Linked DNA regions of Homo sapiens: all the other regions are linked to region 1. Evidence: fine-mapped QTL for protein levels in blood plasma. A gene starts in region 1. Each other region holds a variant in brackets. All regions are shown on one strand. Distances are between the middles of the regions. Region 1 holds the start of TNFRSF6B (TNF receptor superfamily member 6b). Region 2 holds the start of ZBTB46-AS2 (ZBTB46 antisense RNA 2). Region 3 holds the start of LOC124904954 (a long non-coding RNA gene).

The links. PIP is the posterior inclusion probability: the model's chance that the variant is causal. The UK Biobank Pharma Proteomics Project read protein levels with antibody pairs (Olink). The fine-mapping took linkage between variants from a reference panel, not from the people measured, so its PIPs are less certain.
Region 2: its variant is fine-mapped to the plasma level of the TNFRSF6B protein (UK Biobank, PIP above 0.99).
Region 3: its variant is fine-mapped to the plasma level of the TNFRSF6B protein (UK Biobank, PIP above 0.99).

What each region holds. Positions count from the first base shown.
Region 1 is chr20:63,695,429-63,701,499 of GRCh38, reverse strand. TNFRSF6B (TNF receptor superfamily member 6b) reads right to left here and starts at 4,848. Exons shown (of 3, transcript NM_003823.4): 1 at 4,309-4,848; 2 at 3,978-4,172; 3 at 2,816-3,220. The coding sequence starts at 4,732. The coding sequence ends at 2,937. RTEL1 (regulator of telomere elongation helicase 1) reads right to left here. Exons shown (of 35, transcript NM_001283009.2): 34 at 5,850-6,071; 35 at 5,255-5,722. The coding sequence ends at 5,642. It overlaps ARFRP1 (ARF related protein 1), which reads left to right. Exons shown (of 8, transcript NM_001267547.3): 7 at 798-898; 8 at 970-2,853. The coding sequence ends at 1,057. RTEL1-TNFRSF6B (RTEL1-TNFRSF6B readthrough (NMD candidate)) reads right to left here. Exons shown (of 38, transcript NR_037882.1): 34 at 5,850-6,071; 35 at 5,646-5,722; 36 at 4,309-4,740; 37 at 3,978-4,172; 38 at 2,802-3,220. RefSeq lists enhancers at 1,859-1,938, 1,079-1,960, 2,009-2,058, 2,129-2,308, 2,549-2,598 and 2 more.
Region 2 is chr20:63,739,958-63,744,499 of GRCh38, reverse strand. It overlaps SLC2A4RG (SLC2A4 regulator), which reads right to left. Exons shown (of 8, transcript NM_020062.4): 1 at 4,462-4,542; 2 at 3,969-4,123; 3 at 3,021-3,130; 4 at 2,444-2,631; 5 at 2,270-2,370; 6 at 1,885-2,164; 7 at 1,710-1,801; 8 at 450-1,621. The coding sequence ends at 1,510. It overlaps ZBTB46 (zinc finger and BTB domain containing 46), which reads left to right. Exons shown (of 5, transcript NM_001369741.1): 5 at 1-830. It overlaps ZBTB46-AS2 (ZBTB46 antisense RNA 2), which reads right to left and starts at 675. Exons shown (of 3, transcript NR_186425.1): 1 at 1-675. RefSeq lists silencers at 3,607-4,306, 4,317-4,466. The variant C/T (reference allele first, on the strand shown) is at 1,039.
Region 3 is chr20:63,672,834-63,680,462 of GRCh38, reverse strand. It overlaps RTEL1 (regulator of telomere elongation helicase 1), which reads right to left. Exons shown (of 35, transcript NM_001283009.2): 10 at 6,370-6,523; 11 at 2,280-2,318; 12 at 2,117-2,195; 13 at 517-614. RTEL1-TNFRSF6B (RTEL1-TNFRSF6B readthrough (NMD candidate)) reads right to left here. Exons shown (of 38, transcript NR_037882.1): 10 at 6,370-6,523; 11 at 2,280-2,318; 12 at 2,117-2,195; 13 at 517-614. It overlaps LOC124904954 (a long non-coding RNA gene), which reads left to right and starts at 2,088. Exons shown (of 2, transcript XR_007067717.1): 1 at 2,088-2,819. RefSeq lists a cis regulatory region at 3,878 and an enhancer at 3,806-3,950. The variant T/C (reference allele first, on the strand shown) is at 4,941.

The sequences.
Region 1 (6,071 bases):
GAAGTGATGCTGGGGCCCTGGTGGGAGTCAGCTCTGACCCTTACCTGTTCCTGCTACCCTTGGAGGTGGCATCTGTGCCAGCCCCACCCCCAGGGCAGCCCCTCAAGACCCCTCTGAGGTGCCACTGCCCCCGGGAGCACTGGCCACGCTGAGTTCTAGCTGTTCTCTTGGAGTGGCTTTGCACAGAAGCAGCCCGGCGTCCAGAGGGCCAGGTGAATCTTCACTTCCTGCCTTCTCTGGGGTGGCTCTGTTGCCCCCAGCCTGTAAGGCTGGCCTCCCCTACAATCTCAGCCGACAAGAGGGACATCTGGTACGGGGCAGGGGTCTCCCCTCGGAGGAAAAGGGGAGGGGAGGGCTGCTTTTTGAAGACTGGGCAGGTGGTTGTGAGCAGAAGCCACCATGACTGCAGACTGCCTCCATCACTGATGCAGGGCTCCCACCTCTCCATCATCCCCGGCTGTGTGGGCCCCTGGGACCTGCCTCCGCCACTGCCCAGGAGGCCTCAGTCCTCAGCGCCCCACCTCGGGGCTCAGGGTGTCCCCCAGGGAGGGGATGGGGGGTGGACTCCTTGGAGCCGTGTGGACGTCTAGTTTGTCTCAGGCACTACCAGCCATGTTCAGCCTCGGGCTGAGCACAGGGTCCTCACTGCTGTGGTCTCTGTGGGAGACACTGGGACCCTGGTGGAGCTCTGGCTGTTTCCCTGGGGTGAAGGGCATACGCCCTTCTGAGAGTCCCGGGCCCACAGGCAGGACAGGGCCAGACGTGGGGGCTGCTCCTCACGGCCTTACCTCCCCCAGACGTGCCTCTCAATCCCTGACATCAAGACGGCCTTCAGCGACTGCACCAGCAAGATCGGCAGGCGAGATTGCCTGACCCAGGCCTGCTCGGCCCTCACAGGGTGAGTGGGGGCTGCACCTGCGGGGGCTTTGGGGACCGAGACCCCCCGCCTCACACCCGCTGTCTTCACAGCAAAGGGGTGCGCGAGGGCATCGAGTGGATGGTGAAGTGTGTCGTGCGGAATGTGCACCGGCCGCCGCGGCAGAGGGACATCACGTAGGCGCAGCCGCGCTGCCGTCGGGACGGCTGGTCCCCTGGTGCTGGAGGAGTGGCCTCCTGTTGGCTCCCATGCTGCTGATCTGGGGGGTGGGTTTGCTTTGCTTTGGGGTTCTTCTATTTACTTTGTTTTCTCGAAGACAAACTTTCCTCTATGTCTGGAAAAGCGTAGGCATCCGGAGGCTTTGGAGGGGAGTCTGGCAGCCCGGCTGGCCCAGGCCCTGCAGCGGCAGCCTTTCCACAGGGCGCAGCGGCGGCCTTTCGAGGCCCTTTCTGGGGGGTCTGAGGGAGACCTGGTTGGGAATTGGGGCTCCAGTGCTCAGGCTGGCTTGGGCTGCATGAGGACAGCCCTGTGGGACCCTCGGGAGACCCCGTGGCTGTCTCCGCCCCATCGAGGAGGAGGCCCGTCAGCCATGGCTGCCATCTGGCTTCTGCCCTGTGACCCCGTGACCCCGTGACCCCGGAAGTGGTCTGGGGCTGATCTTGCCTTGAGGAAGACCCAGGCCATGTTCCCAAAGGCCAGCGGGGGCCCTGGATTGTGATGCAGCCTCGGGACAGGGCTGAGGCCTGCGGGGGAAGACCTATACCCCACGCCTGGGCCTGGCTTCACCTCACCCTAATCCCCCGGGAGGGAGCTGACTGATGCAAAAAGCTGAGGGGGCCTGCTGGGAGTGGCTGTTTTTATGCCCCAGCCCCGCAAGTTGGGGAGTGTTTGTGGGGGTCCAGAGCCCTCCCCCAGCCAGGAGAGAACCTCCCGGAGGGGTTCTCTGTGGGGCCCTGTGTCCCCTGCTCGGGAGTAAGGCTGGTCCTGGGGTCCTCCCTGCACGGACCCCACTGGGCCTGCCGAGTGCTGTGTTCTTCCTCAGTCTGGCTGTGGGCAGGAGCGGCCTGCCCAGTGTCACCCAGGGTGAGTGCAAAATAAAGACGGCGAGTGTGGCTCTGTCCATCCCTTCCCTCCTGGAGGGTGGAGGCTCCTGGCTGTTGGACACGGTGATGGTGTTACTGGGCTGCTCAGGGGCTGGTGGGCAGGTGAGGGGCTCCCCAGGTGGGCCTGGAGAGTCCAGGCACTCCCTTCCTGCGGATGTGGGAAGGACATGGGGTCCTGGGAGGAGCTGCTGGGAAGGGGCATGAGTCAGGGTGGGGGTGGCGCAGCAGCTGCGGGGCTGTGACTCACAGGAGTCGGGCCCTGGAAGTCCCCGCGTCCTCTCCAGGGGACCCTGTGTGTGTTCTGCAGGTTGGTTCCCAGGACCTGGGGGGGACCTCCAGCCCCGGGAACCTGGCCGTGCTGGGGAGGCGAGTGGCTGGTGCAGCCCCCCGGTTGCTCTGGGTGCATCGGGAGGCTTCAGAGCCTGCCCCAGAGAGGGAGAAGCTTCACTTCCCGGAAAGCATGGGAGGCCTGGAGGAGGTCTTTGGCAGGTCCCCTCTCGGGAAATCCCCTGTGAGTTGGGAGTGGGAGGAATTCATAAGTGGGGGGTTAGTGTGGGCCCCGGCGACTAGGGCTGGCCTGAGCCCCATCCTGTTCTTCCAGCAATGATACCCTCCCAGGCCCTGACCCTCGCTGAGCTTCAGGGGCCCCTGCCACGTGCCACAGCCACTGGGGGCAGAGGTGGCACTCCCCACTGATCCTCCCAGGGAGGGTCTGTCTGAGGTAGGGGAAGCCCCGGGCAGCAGTTCTGATGGCAGGCAGCCTGAGGGATCTGGGCACAGCGGGCGGCTCAGGTGTCCCCGGCTGCCCTCCCAGTAGCTGTGCAACTACAACCAGTTTTATGAAAAAGCTTTATAAAAATAAGCTTTAAGAAACCTCATTTCTTCTATTTAAAAAAAAGCCTCTTTCAGTGCAAGTGGGGTGCCAAGGATGTAGAATAAATAAGAGGGGGCCAGGATCAGTGCACAGGGAGGAAGCGCTCACGGACGCTCCGCTCCAGCCCGGGCATCCTGGCCACGCGCAGCGCCTGCAGCAGCCGCACCAGCAGCGCCCCGTCCTGCGCCCCCAGGAGCTCCGTGAGCCGCCGACGCAGCTTCAGCTGCAAGGCCGCGCGGCCCGCCCTTGGTGTCGGACCCCAGCCCTCCGGGGCCTCGAGGGCCTGCAGCAGCCGCTGCAGCCTCTTGATGGAGATGTCCTGGAAAGCCACAAAGTCGATGACGGCACGCTCACACTCCTCAGCTCCTGCAGTGGGGTGGGGAGGCAGCGGTCCGATCATTTCACCCACACACACTGGCGGGGGCTGCCAGGTACCCTGCTTTCTGGGCCCCACTCGGGGGGTTTGCAGGAGAGAGAAATCCCTGTGCAGTGAGCCGTGCTGGAGAGGGCAGTGCAACGATGGGGACTGGAGAAGGGGCAGGAGCCTTCGGTCAGAGAGCTGGAGCAAAGGCCTAGGGGGCAGGAGCGGCCACTCGGACCTTGGCTGCAAGAGGCAAGGGGGCCCAGGCAAGGGCTTGGGGCTCCTGGGCCATCGGAAGGGGCGAGTTGGGACCTGCAGATGGACCGGACCTGACTTGATGTTAAGGGGGTCACTTCCCCCTGTGACTTCTCAACAGTGGTTAACATTGGGCCTCGGTTTCCCCATGTCAGAGGAGGCAGCCACCTTCCTCTCAGGCAGTTAGGAGAGTTACCATCAGGCCTCGGTTTCCCCGTGTCAGAGGAGCCAGCCACCTTCCCCTCGGGCAGTTAGGAGATTGCTGCCCACTTTCCCAGAGCTCCCCAGGGGAGGCTGTGCCCTGGCTCAGATCCAAATTCTCAGCCACCCCTGAGAGGGCAGACTTGGTGGGGATCTAGTGGAGGGACCCCTGACCCCTCAAATCCACTGTGGCCCCTTCCCAGAGCCAGCTGGCATGCCTCAGGCTAGATGCACGTGCAGGGGCAGGAGTGAGGGCACAAGTGGGCCTGGCCTGCAGTGTGCTGCCCCCTCAGGCCTCTGGCTCACCTGGTACCCTGGTGCTGAGGGGGAAGCCAGTGCAGCTGGTGCACAGGGTGTCATGGGAGGAAGAGCCTGGCACATTGAGGGCCAGGCCCAGGGCCGTGCAGTTGCGGTGGGGCTGGCACTGCTCTGAGCTGGAGCTGCTGGCTGAGAAGGTGCCTGGGGGGCACGGCTGGCACTGCGTGTTCTGGCTGGGGGTGCCTGCAGCCAGGAGGGAAGAACAGGGTCAGGGGAACTGGTGTCCTAGCTCAGGGTGCAAGGCTGGGACCAGCAACCTGACCCCTGCCACACCTCCGGCCACCACTCCTGGGGGCCCCTCCCCTCGCCCAGCTCTCACCCGGGGCAATCACGCCGGCACCAGGTGGACACGATGCGTGCTCCAAGCAGAAACCAGCGTGCGCGAAGAAGCCGGTGCGGCAGCGGCAGGCACGGTTGTGGGTGGCGTGGCAAGCCCGTGCCTCCTCCTCACGCTCCCCGCAGAGGACGTTGCAGTAGCGGCAGCGCTCTAGGTAGTTCCAGAACTGCGTGTAGTGGCGCGGTGGACACGGGCCACACGTCGTGGGGCTGTCTCGGCGGCACGGCCGCTGCACAAAGGTGCCTGGGGGGCACTGGGCGCACACCAGCCGCTCCCCTGTCTCTGCGTCCCGCCAGGGGTAGGTGGGTGTTTCTGCCACTCCGCGTACAGCCGGCACCGGCAGCAGGGCAGGCAGCGCCAACACCAGGCACAGCAGCGACAGGCCTGGCCCCTCCAGCGCCCTCATGGTCCTTGCTGGAGCAGGGAGAGCGCGGCTCAGCGCGGACACAGGACCCTGCTGTGCCTGACCGACATGCCACCTCCTTTGCCCCCGGTCCGCCTGCGGAGGGGCCGCCCAAGTCCAGAAGCCCATCCTGCTGCTGCCCTACATATATGGGCGGGGAGAGGGCTGGGCCAGCCTCGCCACGCCCCATAGGAACCCCTCCCTCCCCAGGCAGCCCCCCTCACCCACCTGGTACCATCCCTCCCCAGAGCTCAGTCCAAGGGTGGTTCTGGGAGGGGCCTCACCAGCCAGGGAGCTGCCCTCCTCAGCACCTGGGGCAGCTCCCAACCCAGAGACCAGCCCAGGCAGCCTGGTGTGTCGGTGGATCCCCTACCAACTGCAGCTTGGCTGCGGCTGTGAGGATGAGGGCAGGGCTGAGCCCACCGTGGAGGAAGTACAGTGTCACATGGCAGGCTGGGAGGGGCCTCTGCCAACTCCCTGTCCCTCAACTCCCACCACCAAGCCCAGGCCACGAAGACACCGTCCTGGGCACTGCCAGCAGCTTTATTAGAGAGCCCTGTCCCCTGATTAAAAGTGGACACGTGCCCACGGGGGTCTCCTCCTTCCCGGTGAGGGGCTCAGCTGGGGTGCCCCTGTGGCACCACTCACAGGCCAGGAGCCAGGGAAGTTCTGGGGAAGCACTTTCCCAGAAACCCACCCCAGACCCCAAGGTAGCTCAGGGCTTCTCAGAGGCAGGCCCAGATCCGGTCCCACCGCAGGGACCAACCATGGGCCCCGCCTGCCTGAGGCCTGCAGCGGGCCAAGCCGGCTGGCATGGGCTGGCCTATTCTGTTGGGTGGGTTCTTGGCCCACCAGAGCTGGACAGGCAGGTGATCAAGCCACGTTGGGTGTGCTGGGGGCCTCCGTGGGCACTCACTGGGGCTCTGGCCAGAAGACCTGCATGACGCTCTGCTTCCTGGAGGCGGTGTGGCAGGCTGGGCACATCCTAGAGGCCTGTGAGACAACCGGCCCACTGCACACGTCTGCCAGGCGTTGCCACCAGGACAAGGGCCTGCCCTTTCCCCCTCAGCCCATCACCTGGGGCTACACCCAGCAGGAACTGTAGTGGCCAGGCACCAACCTGAAGGTGCCGTTGCCAGCAGGCTTGGCAGCGCTGGAAGTCACAGGCAGGGCACTGGAAGGGCACCACGTCCTCTGCCCCACAGCCCTGGCACACACAGCCTGCTGAGAGGGGCCCGCCCGGAGCTCCCGTGGCCTGCTGCCCAGCGATGTCTCTCCCATGAGGCTCACCCCACTCAGATGCTGCAGGCCCGTGGGGAGGTCCTGAGGACTGGCTGGGACC
Region 2 (4,542 bases), 44 kb before region 1:
TTTTGTATTTTTGTTTGTGTCTGTTTGTATTTTGGTGTTTACAACACCAAAGTGGGAAATACAGTCCATTGGGGATGGTGTTATTTGGGGGCGGGGAGGGGGCAGGGACACCACGATTTTTCTGTCAAGCTCTGGATCCTGACCAGGTTGTACACTGGGGCTCTCTGAGCTTTGGGACACAGGACACTGCCAGGGCTACGTAGGGAACTGACTCAGAAGACGCAGCTTACTGCTTCCAACTTTGCACATCTTCCTCTTTAAAAAACTGAGAAAATGCAAAAACTGGAACTTTTTGCAATATTATAAAAGAAGTAATCTTATTTTAGCTCATTCTGTGACATGTGCGACTCTTAAGAAAGCCATACTTAATGGTGGTGGTTTTTTTTAGATCTTATATTGTGTTTTGTATGCAGCCCTTTTAGAACTACTTGTAGTGAGGGTGCTGTGTGTGCTTTTCTTAAATATTTATTTTTTTCAACATGCTTTCAACCTGTCAACAAAAACAAAACACACAAAAAAAGGGCAGTGTTTGAAGATTGTTGATTTTTTTCTGGGGATAATCTATATTATATTGACTTCCTATTACTTATTATAAACCTGTGTTTGTATTGGAGATGTGTCTACTATTGGGGGAAGAGGTTCTCGTAATCGCTCGGTGGGAAATCATGGCTCTGCCGTCCTGCCTCTCTGTGGCCGTGGGTTCACGTGGCCTCTGCGGTGAGTCTCCAAGTTTCTGCCTAGGCGCCTGTGCGTTTCCTTTCTGTGACGGGATTAGCTTAGACATCCTTGCAAAGCGATCACTTTCAATAAATTGGGAAATTGCTGCTCCAGCAGATGCCTCCTGCGTCTCAGATGATCCTTCCTCCGGCCTCGCCTGGGGTGGCGGCGGCCGACGGGTGACCCTCGGCCCTCTGTGGGCAGCTGCCAGACTCCACCCACTTGCCCACCACAGGGTCCCAGCCCCACGGCCTTCCTCCCGAGAGGCAGACAAAGCTTCTGGAAAAACCTCAAATCTTTAATTTCTCTCTTCGCCTGGTG[C/T]AGCCCAGACGTGAGACACCTGAGCTTCAAAAACAAACATGGTAAAAACAGCCCCAGGGCCCGAGAGCCGTTGAGTTAAGTGCGAGTGGGGGAGTCCCCTCTCCAACACCCCTCAAAGTGCATCGGGACTGGCCCCCCAAAGCTGGGCCCATAACACCCTTGATAAATCTACGGGCCGACAGGCGGGAGGGTGGCTGCCCCCAGGGCCCTTGGGGCTAAGGGGACAGCGGTGTGGTTTGGCTTTAGTGCAAAAAGCTGGTTTCTTTAGAGGCACTTTGAGTGGTGGGACCCCTCCCCGACCTGGCGGGGGGGAGGGTTCAGGGTCAGCCCCGCCCCCCCACCCCAAGTAAAAGCAGACCCTGCAGCTGGTGAAAGCCAGCCCCTGGGGCTGTCCTCGGGCTGTTTCAGCCCCGGGCCTGGAGGGGGTGGGGAGGGAGAAGGTGGTAGCTTATGTTCTTGAACGAGCCGGACTTAGTCCAGGAACCGCTGGCAGGCTTTCTTCCAGCGGCAGGCTGTGCACCAGAGGTCCCGGCGCTCCATGCCATACACCTTCCGGCACTTCTTCGCGTCGCCGCGGGGCTTCCTGTGCGGGGGGTCACAGGACATGGGGTGCTGTGAGACCAGGACCCTCCCCACCTGGTGCCAGCCGCAGGCCCTCAGCCCACACGCACCTCAGGGTGACTCCGATCCTGGAGGACAAGGCGGGTGGGCAGGCTCCGACCTCCGTGGGCTGCGGCTCCAGGCGGGCGGGCGTCAGGCAGCCCTACAGGGAGACACAGCCAGGGCTTCACTCCCCTCCAGAGAGCCCTGAGACCCGCCCCAGCTGCCACCCGTGGCCTCACCCACCTGGTAGACACGGTCACTGTGACAGGACTGGGGGTTAGCAACGGTGCTCAGGACAGGGGGCGGGGGCAGGGGCGGGGCAGGCGGCCGCAGGGGACTAGGCAGGGCTGGGGGCTCCAGCAGCTCTGGCAGCTCCAGGCGGGGGAAGGCAGGCGGCATGGAGGCCGTGGGGGACACTGGAGTCAGGCTGGACAGCCCGTCGGTCAGCGTGTCCACACCAACATCCAGCTCTGTGTAGTAGAAGTCCTCCTCACCATCACTCTGCTCAGGCTCTGCCTGCCTCCTGCGGGAGACACAGCCAGCCAGTGGGAGCTGAAGGGGTGGCCTGGCCGGGCCTCACAACCCCAGCCAACCCGCAGGCCCCGCCGCACCCCAGGCCCCGCCGCACCCCAGGTGCACCAGGCGGATGTGTCTCTGCATCGCCGACGCCGTGCTCAGCACCTTCCCGCAGCTCTTCCACAGACACTGGAACATGACCTGGGCCGGGCTCTGCAGCAACAGGGGCCAGGGTCAGGCTCAGCCGCCACACCCGCCCCTCCCTGGGGGCCGCCCCCAAGCTCACCTTCCTTTTTCTCAGGGTGGGCTCCCCAAACAGAAAGTGGGCTGCCTCGGGGGGCAGTGGGGGTGACGGGGTGGACGGAGAGGACTGGTCACTGGCCAGGTCCCATCCCCAGTCTCCACTGTTGCTGCTGCTGCTGTAGCTGCCTGGGGGCCGCACCAGGGCCTCCTTCCAGGGCTCCAGGCCAGGCTCTGTGGGGACACGGGCCCCCCGCCTTAGAACTTCGGGTGGGTCCAGGGAGTCCCTAATCCTGAGCTGCCCCTGTTCACCAAGTCCGGTGAGACTGGTGGGCAGAGCGTCTTGGAGGAGCTGGCCCCAGGGCTTGGGGAGAAACCCCCCCGGCACAGGAAAGGGTTGGCAGACGTGTGTGGCCAGCCGCGTGGAGGTGAGCAGGTCAGGGAGGCCAGAAGGCCTGGGTCCTGCCGCTTTGGCCTCAGTAGGGGGCACTGAGGGTGCGGGAGTCCATTTTAGAAAGGAGTCCCAGGTTTGAGGGCTCTGCTTGCCCCACAGAGGCTGGGTGGCTGTAGGTTCTGAGCCCTGTCCCCACCCACACCCCTAAATGCAGACATCTGAGTCTTACCTGGGCTGAAGGCTGCAACCGGGGCCCCCAGAAGGAGAGGGCTGGTGGACAGGCTTGTAAGGGCAGCGGCAGCCATGACCTCGTCCAGCCGGGCTTTTCCTGGGGTGGCTCTGGAGGAGATGGGGGCGGGGTGCGGGTGACCCAGCCAGAGCTCTGGGCCCCTCCCCTGGTCGGTCCACGTGCAGGCCTGGGCACGCGTGCACACCAGGCTCCCCACTCCCAGCCCTGGGCATGAGGCCTGGCTCCTCCCCCAGCTCAGGTTGCAGAGAGAGCTGAAAGCCACCCGGAGCCGCCAGGAGCAGGGCCAGGGTCTCCTGAAGCCTGAGTTCTCCACATCGCGGGCTTGGCTCCACTGTGGTTCCTTCAGATACTGGGGCTGGGCAGGGGTCTGAAGCCCTGGCAGAGGGGCGGGCCAGGCCCAGGCCTCCCCCCATCACACATTAACCAGGGTTGTGCAACAGCAGCTGTGGGCCTCACGCCAGGCCTGGGAGGTGGGAGTGGCCAGCAGCCGGCAGCAGCCAGGGGGAGACTGGGCTGGAAGCACGGGCAGCTCCCCAGGCCCCAGCGAGCCAGGCCAGGGCCCGCCCCTGCCCTGGCAGCCAGACCGAGGTGTCCGGCCTGGCAGGGGTTGGGAGGTGGCGGTCAGGAGCCCCAGGGATTCCTGGACAGTCGCCCCATGCCGACCGCGCAGCCTCTTCTGCACAGAGACGCACAGCCACCCGCTCCGGGTTCTGAGCTCTAGCCCCGAGGAACTGCGGTGGAGGGAGGTGTAGGGACTCCCAGTCATCGATCATTTCTGCTCAGCTCCTCCAGGGCTGAAGAGCTTGGGGGTGGCTGGTAATTACAAACCTGGGGCCCTGACCTGGCCTCCGTCGGGGCCGGTGTCTCCGCACCCCACCCACCGCCCCTGCGCACACCGAGTCCCGAGGCACCGGGCCTCCCGCTCACCTCTGCGCTGGGACGGGGATGTGCGCCGACGGAGTCCGGGGCCCCGCCGCCGCCCCCGTCCACGTCCGGGGGGCCCCCAGGTCCGAGGCCCGCGGCTCCGACTCCTGCGGCCGCGCGAACTCCAAGCCCGCGAAGCCGCCGCCCACGGAAGAGCCCTGCGGATGGGGAGGGGGCAGACTCAGCGGAGGCGGTGGCCGGGGGAGGGGGGTCCCTCAACCTCCGCCGCGGATCCGCTCGGCGCCCGCCTCGAAAACCGGCTGCGGCCGGTGTGGACGGCGCGGCCCCGCCCCCGGCCCCGCCCCCAGCCCGGCGCGGCGGGAAGGGCTCCCCGGCCGCCCGGCGCAGCCCCGGCGGGACCCACGGACACGCGCGGACCGACGCGGCCGCCCTCCCCGCTGCCCCGCCCCCGGGGGCCCGAAGTTTGGGCAGCACTGACGCCATCTTTGCAGCGAGAGAAACTTGGTCGGCGCCCCCGCCCACCGGCGCCCGGTACCTGCGGCGGCGTGGGCACCGTCACGGGCGCGGCGCGCGGCCCCGGACCCTCCGCGCGCAGCCACGGCGCCTCGGCCCGCAG
Region 3 (7,629 bases), 22 kb after region 1:
AGGGACAGAGTCTCCAAGGGGGTCAGTGGGACTTGAAAAGAGGCTCTATGGTCGCCTAAGGGTTGAAGCAGCAAAAGCCACCCTCCCCAGCACCCGGGAGCGCAGCAGAGGAGAGACCCCGCTGGGCCCGGCGTCTCAAACCAGAGCAGCCCATGGGGACACCGCCTCTGGGCAAAGCCTCTGGACCCCACAACTCTGAGAAGCAGAACTCGGGGTGGTGTGGAGAAGCCAGAGGCCCCACAAGCCAGCTAGGGCCTTGGGCTGCTCTTTCTCAAAAGCAGAATAATGGGATGAGGCTGTAGGACGAAGCCGCCAGCTGCAGAACTGGGACAGGCTCTACGGCAGCTGGCAAGTGGCACTAACGCCTCCACGCCCCGATCAGAAGATGAGGTTCTGTGGGCCTGTTCCTGCTGACGGCCAGGTGACGGCCAGGGGAGCCCTGACTGCCAAGATGGAGGCCTGCTGCACCCCCTACGCCACATTTGCCCGCACCAAAGACCCCGTGCCAGCACTCACGTCCTGCCAGGTGCTGGATGATCTGGTCCAGCGAGTCCAGGATGCAGCCCTTGGTCTGAAACGTGATCTGGGCTTCAGCAAACAGCTCAAAGATGTAGCTGCCGAGGAGAAGAAGGCAGGCTCGAGCCTGGCGGGGGGACCAGACTGCAGCTTTGGGAACTGAGGAGAAGAAGGCAGGCTCGGGCCTGAGGGGGGACGACACTGGTCAAAGATGTAGCTGCCGAGAAGAAAACAGGCTCGAGCCTGGAGGGGGAAATCAGGCTGCAGCTTTGGAACTGAAGGCAACAACTGTGGAAGTTTCCTTCCCTCGGAAACAAATTCAGCCCTCCAGGGGACGCCAGCATTGGAGGTGAGAGGCCTCCGCCCTCAGGAGCCTCCAGGTGGGGAGAGGAGGCCTGGCCAGCACGAGAACAGCACCGAGGAAAAGAAGCCGCCTCAGAGCAGGGGCCGCCGTCAGAGGGGAGGGATGGGGTCACTAGGGGGTCGTCAAGAGGTTGTCAGGGGCTTCTGGGAGGCGGTGGCTCTGGGCAGAGTCCCCAAAGCTTTGGAGAGTGACAGTGATGGGGCAGCAGAAGCTACAGGAGGGGACCCTGAGGGTGCAGGGTGGCCGAGGAGCCAGGCCAGAGCCTTGAGCATTACGCTGAGGACAGTGGCTCCACCTGGAAGCAACTGGGATTCCCCCGACCAGGTCGGCGCTCAGGCAGAACACGCTCCACCTCGGCGGCTGTGCGCTCAGGAGAGCCCCCACACAGGCCCCAGCCCTGACTCCTCATCTGCCTGCAGGACAGACAGCAAACCCTGCTGCCCTGGCTGCGGAGAAGACTGGAGCCCCACGGAGCGTTCAGAACGTTCCAGGCCTCCCGGAGTCCAAAAGAGGTGGTGGCTGGGACACTCATCGTCCTAACAAGAAGGTCTCGTTCTAACAGGCACCTGTGCTCAAATGACGGACTGGACCAGGGTCCAGGGAAAGGCCTGGAGGAGGAGAAACTGCAGGAAACCCAGCGGCCCCGCGTGGGAGAGTGTGCTGTTCCGTGGGTGTGTGTGTGCTGTCTGTGGGAGTGTGTGTGCTGTTCCGTGGGAGAGTCTGCTGTTCCGTGGGAGTGTGTGCCGTTCCGTGGGTGTGTGTGCTGTTCCGTGGGAGTGTGTGTGCTGTTCCGTGGGAGAGTGTGCTGTTCCGTGGGAGAGTGTGCCGTTCCGTGGGAGTGTGTGCCGTTCCGTGGGTGTGTGTGCTGTTCCGTGGGAGTGTGTGTGCTGTTCCGTGGGTGTGTGTGCCGTTCCGTGGGTGTGTGTGCTGTTCCGTGGGAGTGTGTGTGCTGTTCGTGGGAGTGTGTGTGCTGTTCGTGGGAGTGTGTGTGCTGTTCCATGGGTGTGTGTGCCGTTCCGTGGGGGGCTGTGTGCTGTCCCGTGGGAGTGTGTGCTGCTCCTCTCAACATCTCAGCAACCAGATCATGCAAAGCAGGTGCTCCTCCCAGGTCTCAAAAAGGGAAAACAGGCCTGAAAACAGGCCTCACTCGTGATGTGACAGCCCAGGACTGCACCATGGCCCGTTTCTAGCTCTAGGCTGGGCCTGCAGTGAAGGGGCTGGCTCCCCGCCTCTCACCTCCCTGGCTTGGTGACACCGCTGTCGTCTCCAGGCAGCTCAACAGCATCGATGGCCCCCTCCAGGCGCAGCAGGATCACTGTGGGTCGAGGAGGTGTCACCCACCTCCTCGCAAGGAGGAGGCCCCACCCAGCTGCAAGGAGGCGGGGAGGGCAACACTTACTCTTCAGCTTTGCAATGTCTTCCAGCTCCATGTTCAGCCCTGGGCAAGAGAAAGGCAGCAAAGGCAGTCTGCATCACGCTCGTGCCAACAACCCCGCCCTTGAGAACCAGGATTCCTGGCATGGAAAAAAGGACACCAACATGGAAAGGAAGAGGCCACACAGAATCCATGCAGGCCAAATCCACCAACATGGGAAGGAAGAGGCCACACAGAATCCGTGCAGGCCAAATCCACCAACAGGGGAAGGAAGAGGCCACACAGAATCCGTGCAGGCCAAATCCACCAACAGGGGAAGGAAGAGGCCACACAGAATCCGTGCAGGCCAAATCCACCAACAGGGGAAGGAAGAGGCCACACAGAATCCGTGCAGGCCAAATCCACCAACAGGGGAAGGAAGAGGCCACACAGAATCCGTGCAGGCCAAATCCACCAACAGGGGAAGGAAGAGGCCACACAGAATCCGTGCAGGCCAAATCCACCAACAGGCGAAGGAAGAGGCTACACAGGCCAAATCCAAACTGGAGACACCAAGAGGAGCAGGTGTTTTATCTTTATTTATCTATTCATTTTTGAGACAGGGTGTCACTCTGTCACCCAGGCAGGGGTGCAGCAGCGCCATCTCTGCTCACTGCAACCTCCATGTCCCAGGTTCAAGCAATTCTCGTGTCTGTCTCCCGACTAGCTGGGACTATAGGTGTGCGCCACCATGCCCGGCTAATTTTCGCATTTTTAGTAGAGATGGGGTTTCACCCTGTTGCTCAGGCTGGTCTTAAACTCCTGACCTCAGGTGATCCACCAGTCTTGGTCTCCCAAAGTGCTGGGATTACCGCTGAGCCCTTATGCCTGGCCGGGTGTTTGACCTTTAGAATTAACATTTGTGAACACACCTGTGCGTATGGCTGTATCTCCACGAAAACACCCAGTAACAACGACCAACCCAGTAACCATGACCAACCCGCTGCCGCATGGCGGGTCTTGAAATACCGTCTTGCAGGAAAAGAAAGCAGGGCTTCTTGGAGACTTGGCTGATTCCAGGTCTGGAGCAGGACATGAGTGTGAAAAATCCTGACTCCCAGACAGCAAAGAGGCCACAACCGCCGGGGTCAGGACACAAGAGCCCACATGAAAACACCTCAAGGTGCAGCAACTGAGGTCAGGAGTGAGATTCAGGAGGGAGCATGGGGCAGGACCAATCCCCACGTTCACACACAAACATTCAGTGATGACACTTGATTGACTGATTGATTTTTGAGACGGAGTCTCGCTCTGTCGCCAGGCTGGAGTGCAATGGTGCGATCTCGGCTCACTGCAACCTCCGCCTCCTGGGTTCAAGTGATTCTCCTGCCTCAGCCTCCCAAGTAGCTGGGATTACAAGCATGCACCACCACACCTGGCTAATTTTTTTGTATTTTTAGTAGAGACGGGGTTTCACCGTGTTGGCCAGGATGGTCTCAATCTCTGACCTCGTGATCCGCCTGCCTGGGCCTCCCAAAGTGCTGGGATGACAGGTGTGAGACAGCACACCCGGCCCACCCCCAGCATTTGTCCCACCTTTCCTGTGTGAATGGGATCACCACATAGCTGATATGGTGCAGGGCGTGGTCCTAAGTTATTCCTGCTAACTGACTAGATGATGGAATTAGCACACTGCCATCTTGCAAGCCCCCAGTGATTAACATATTCAGGTGTTCAGCAGCAACAATGTTCACATGGGAAGAAACGGGAAAGGAGATACTGTGAGCCTTCTGATAGAAAGGACGTCCCATCTGGAGCCCGGCAAACGGTGGCCGCAGTCTAACTGGGGCCCTCAAGCCACCTAAGTTCAGAGTAAACCGGGGAACTCGTGTGGCTGCCCCTCCTGTACAGATTCCGACTCTGCAGGGTAAACGGCCTGGGCTCTTCAATAAATAAAGTGTGAGGAAAAGAATGGACCCTGCCAAGCACAGTGGCACACGCCTGTAGTCCCAGGAGCTTGGGAGGCCGAGGCAGGAGGATCACTTGAGCCCAAGAGGTGGAGGCTGCAGGAGGTGGAGGCTGCAGTGAGCCGTGATGGCACCACCGCTCTCCAGCCTGGGTGACAGAGTGAGACCCCATCTCCAAAGGGGTGGGGGAACAGATAGGGATGAAAACTGAAGTTCTGGTCCTGAATGAGATGGCAGAAGCCCACCCCACCACACGTCCCCCACTAGTTACAACAAAAAGCCCTGCACATCAAGTAACTAACAAAACTGAAGAGTGGAGAAGGCCCCGTGGTGATGTTCACACAGGCCTGGGGGTGGGTGGATGTTTCTCCCACGTTATGTAAGCGATGAAATGGCAGCTGCCGAGATGAGGGAAGGAGACCTGTCACTCTCCCCACCCTGCGCCAAGCGAAGGATGGAAAGAGGCGGCCGTCCACCCCGTTAGAGAGGTGGGGTTGGGGGACTGTGGAGAGGAGGGAGGTGGAGCGTTCAAAGTCCCAGGAACCCCTTCCCCCACTGCAACTCCCTGCGTGGCAATCTTGAGAGCCGGTGGCAGTGGTGCACACCTGTGGTCCCGGCGCTTTAAGACGCTGAGACGGGAAGATCCCATGAGCCCAGGAGGCCGAGGCTACAGGGAACTTTGATTGTACCACCACATTCCAGCCTGGGCAACAGAGTGAGACCCTGTCACTTAAATATA[T/C]GTATATATATATATATATAAAGGGATTCTAAAGCCAGAACACCTGATAACTTCTGTACTAAACAAATGCCAACTTTGCAAACTCACTCTCTACCAAGCAGCCATCCTGGTGAGAAGGGTGAGGACGGGGCTCCCCAGGGTCCAGGGTCCCCGTGGTGTCCGTCCACATGTGCGATTTTAAAGGAAAATGGGGGAAGCTGATGCTGTTTACACCTGGAGATGCTCACGAGCAAGTAGTGTCACAGCAGAACCTATGAAGATATTCACACAGACTCCTAGTCAGCTGTTTACAGAAGCCATGTAGAAAATATGGACAAAGGCCGGGCGTGGCGGCTCACGCCTGTAATCCCAGCACTTTGGGAGGCCGAAGCGGGTGGATCACGTGAGGTCAGGAGTTCGAGACCAGCCTGGCCAACACGGAGAAACCATCTCTACTAAAAATACAAAATTAGCTGGGCGTGGTGGTGCACGCCTGTGATCCCAGCTACTTGGGAGGCTGAGGCAGGAGAATTGCTTGAACCCAGGAGGCGGAGGTTGCAGTGAGCCAAGATCGCGCCATTGCACTCCAGCCTGGGCAACAAAAGTGAAACTCCATCTCAAAAAAAAAAAAAAGAAAGAAAATATAGACCAACTGACAACATCCATGAAGGGTTTCCACGTTTTCCACGTATGCCGTGACTAGCGCTGTGTGGAAATACACCTCTGGACAAACACTGGGAAGGAACCTACAGGCAGAGCAGCTGATGCATGCCAGATTTGTGGGTCATTTAAAGATGCAAAATGCCCTTACAGTGAATATATTTAGTTTTCCTTTTTTTTTTTTTTGAGATGGCCTCACTCTGCCGCCCAGGCTGGAGTGCAGTGGAGTCATCTGGGGCACCGGAAGCTCTGCCTCCCAGGCTCAAGCACGCCTCCCACTTCGGCCTCCGGAAAAGCTTGGACCACAGGAGCACACCACCACACCTGGCTAATTTTTTGGCAGGGGCGAGGTTCCGCCATGTTGCCCAGGCTGGTCTCAAACTCCTGGCCTCAAGCGATGCTCCCAACTCAGCTTCACAAAGTAGAGTTTTCCAGTTTTACACAGTAGAGGCCAAGTTGATACTGGCTGGGAGAAGACATAGGTCTTTGGAAAATACCAGAACTACTGAACAATACCAGCCCTTCCACAGGCTACAGGACCCTGAAGAATTCACACCCAAGAAGCCTCTGAGAGAAGCGGATGCCCTGCAGTGCCAGCCTGAATAGATGGTGCCCAGGCCGACCACACACAGCCACAGGGCAGGCTGCCCACTGCAGTAGCACGGGCCTCAGGACCAAGCAGCCTGGCTATGAACGCACCTGGGCTGGGGGAGTCCGTGCTGAACTCCGGGTGGGGCTCACCCTGCAGCAGCGCAGGCCTCAGGACCAAGCAGTCTGGCTATGAACGCACCTGGGCTGGGGGAGTCCGCGCTGAACTCCGGGTGGGGCTCACCCTGCTGCGCTGCCTTGGTCTGCTCCTCCAGCACCTGGTCTATGACGTCCAGTCCTGAAGCCAGGTCATGGGGAGTCAGGTCAAAGGATGCCGATTCTTCACACATCTTCTCCTAGAGCCCAAGCACACCCGAATCACCACAGAACAGGACAGGATCGGGGGTTCCAGAAAGCAGAAATGGGGTGGGGGTGCAGAAGGCACAGGAGGCTGACAGCCAAGTTCCCAAAGCCTTGGCCTGGGGTCTGTAAAAGGCCACAAGTAGGTCCAAACATGACTGTGTGGCCCACACCAATATTTAGAAACGATTGTTTCAGGCCGGGCGCGGTGGCTCACACCTGTAATCCCAGCACTTTGGGAGGCCAAGGTGGGCAGATCACTTGAGCTCAGGGGTTCAAGACCAGCCTGGGCAACGCTGGGAAACCCCGCCTCTACAAAAAATACAAAAATTAGCCGGGCGTGGTGGTGTGCACCTGTAGTCCCGGCTACTCGGGAGGCTGAGGTGGGAGGATGGCTTGAGCCCAGGAGGTGGAGGTTGCAGTGGGCCAAGATCATACCACTGAACTCCAGCCTGGACGACAGAAGGAGACCCTGTCTCAACAAACAAACAAACAATTATTTCACTGGAATTGCCAATTATTCTTTTTGATTTTATTTTTTTTGAGACGGAGTCTTGCTCTGTCACCAGGCTGGAGTACAGTGGTGTGATCTTGGCTCATTGCAACCTCTACCTCCTGGGTTCGAGTGATTCTCCTGCCTCAGCCTCCTGAGTAGCTGGGACTATAGGCACACGCCACCACGCCCAGCTAATTTTTTTGTATTTTTAGTAGAGACGGTGTTTCACTATGTTGGCCAGGATGGTCTTGATCTCTTGACCTCGTGATCCGCCCACCTCAGCCTCCCAAAGTGCTGGGATTATAGGCATGAGCTAGCGCGCCCAGTCAACATTTTTTTTTTTGACACAGAATCCCGCTTTGTCACCCAGGCTGGAATGCAGTGGTGTGATCCTGGCTCACTGCAGCCTCTGCCTCCAAGGTTCAAGCGATTCTCCTGCCTCAGTCTCAAGCCATGTGGCCGGAAGGGCAGAGACACTGCAGGCAAGACCACAAGCCTGCTGCTGCCGAGGGCAGAGGAGACAGCCCTGGCCCAGGCTGACCCCGAGCTGGCTGGAGGGAAAGGGTCTGGTGAGCGGCCTGTGGGGGCCCTGCGCCTGACGGGCAG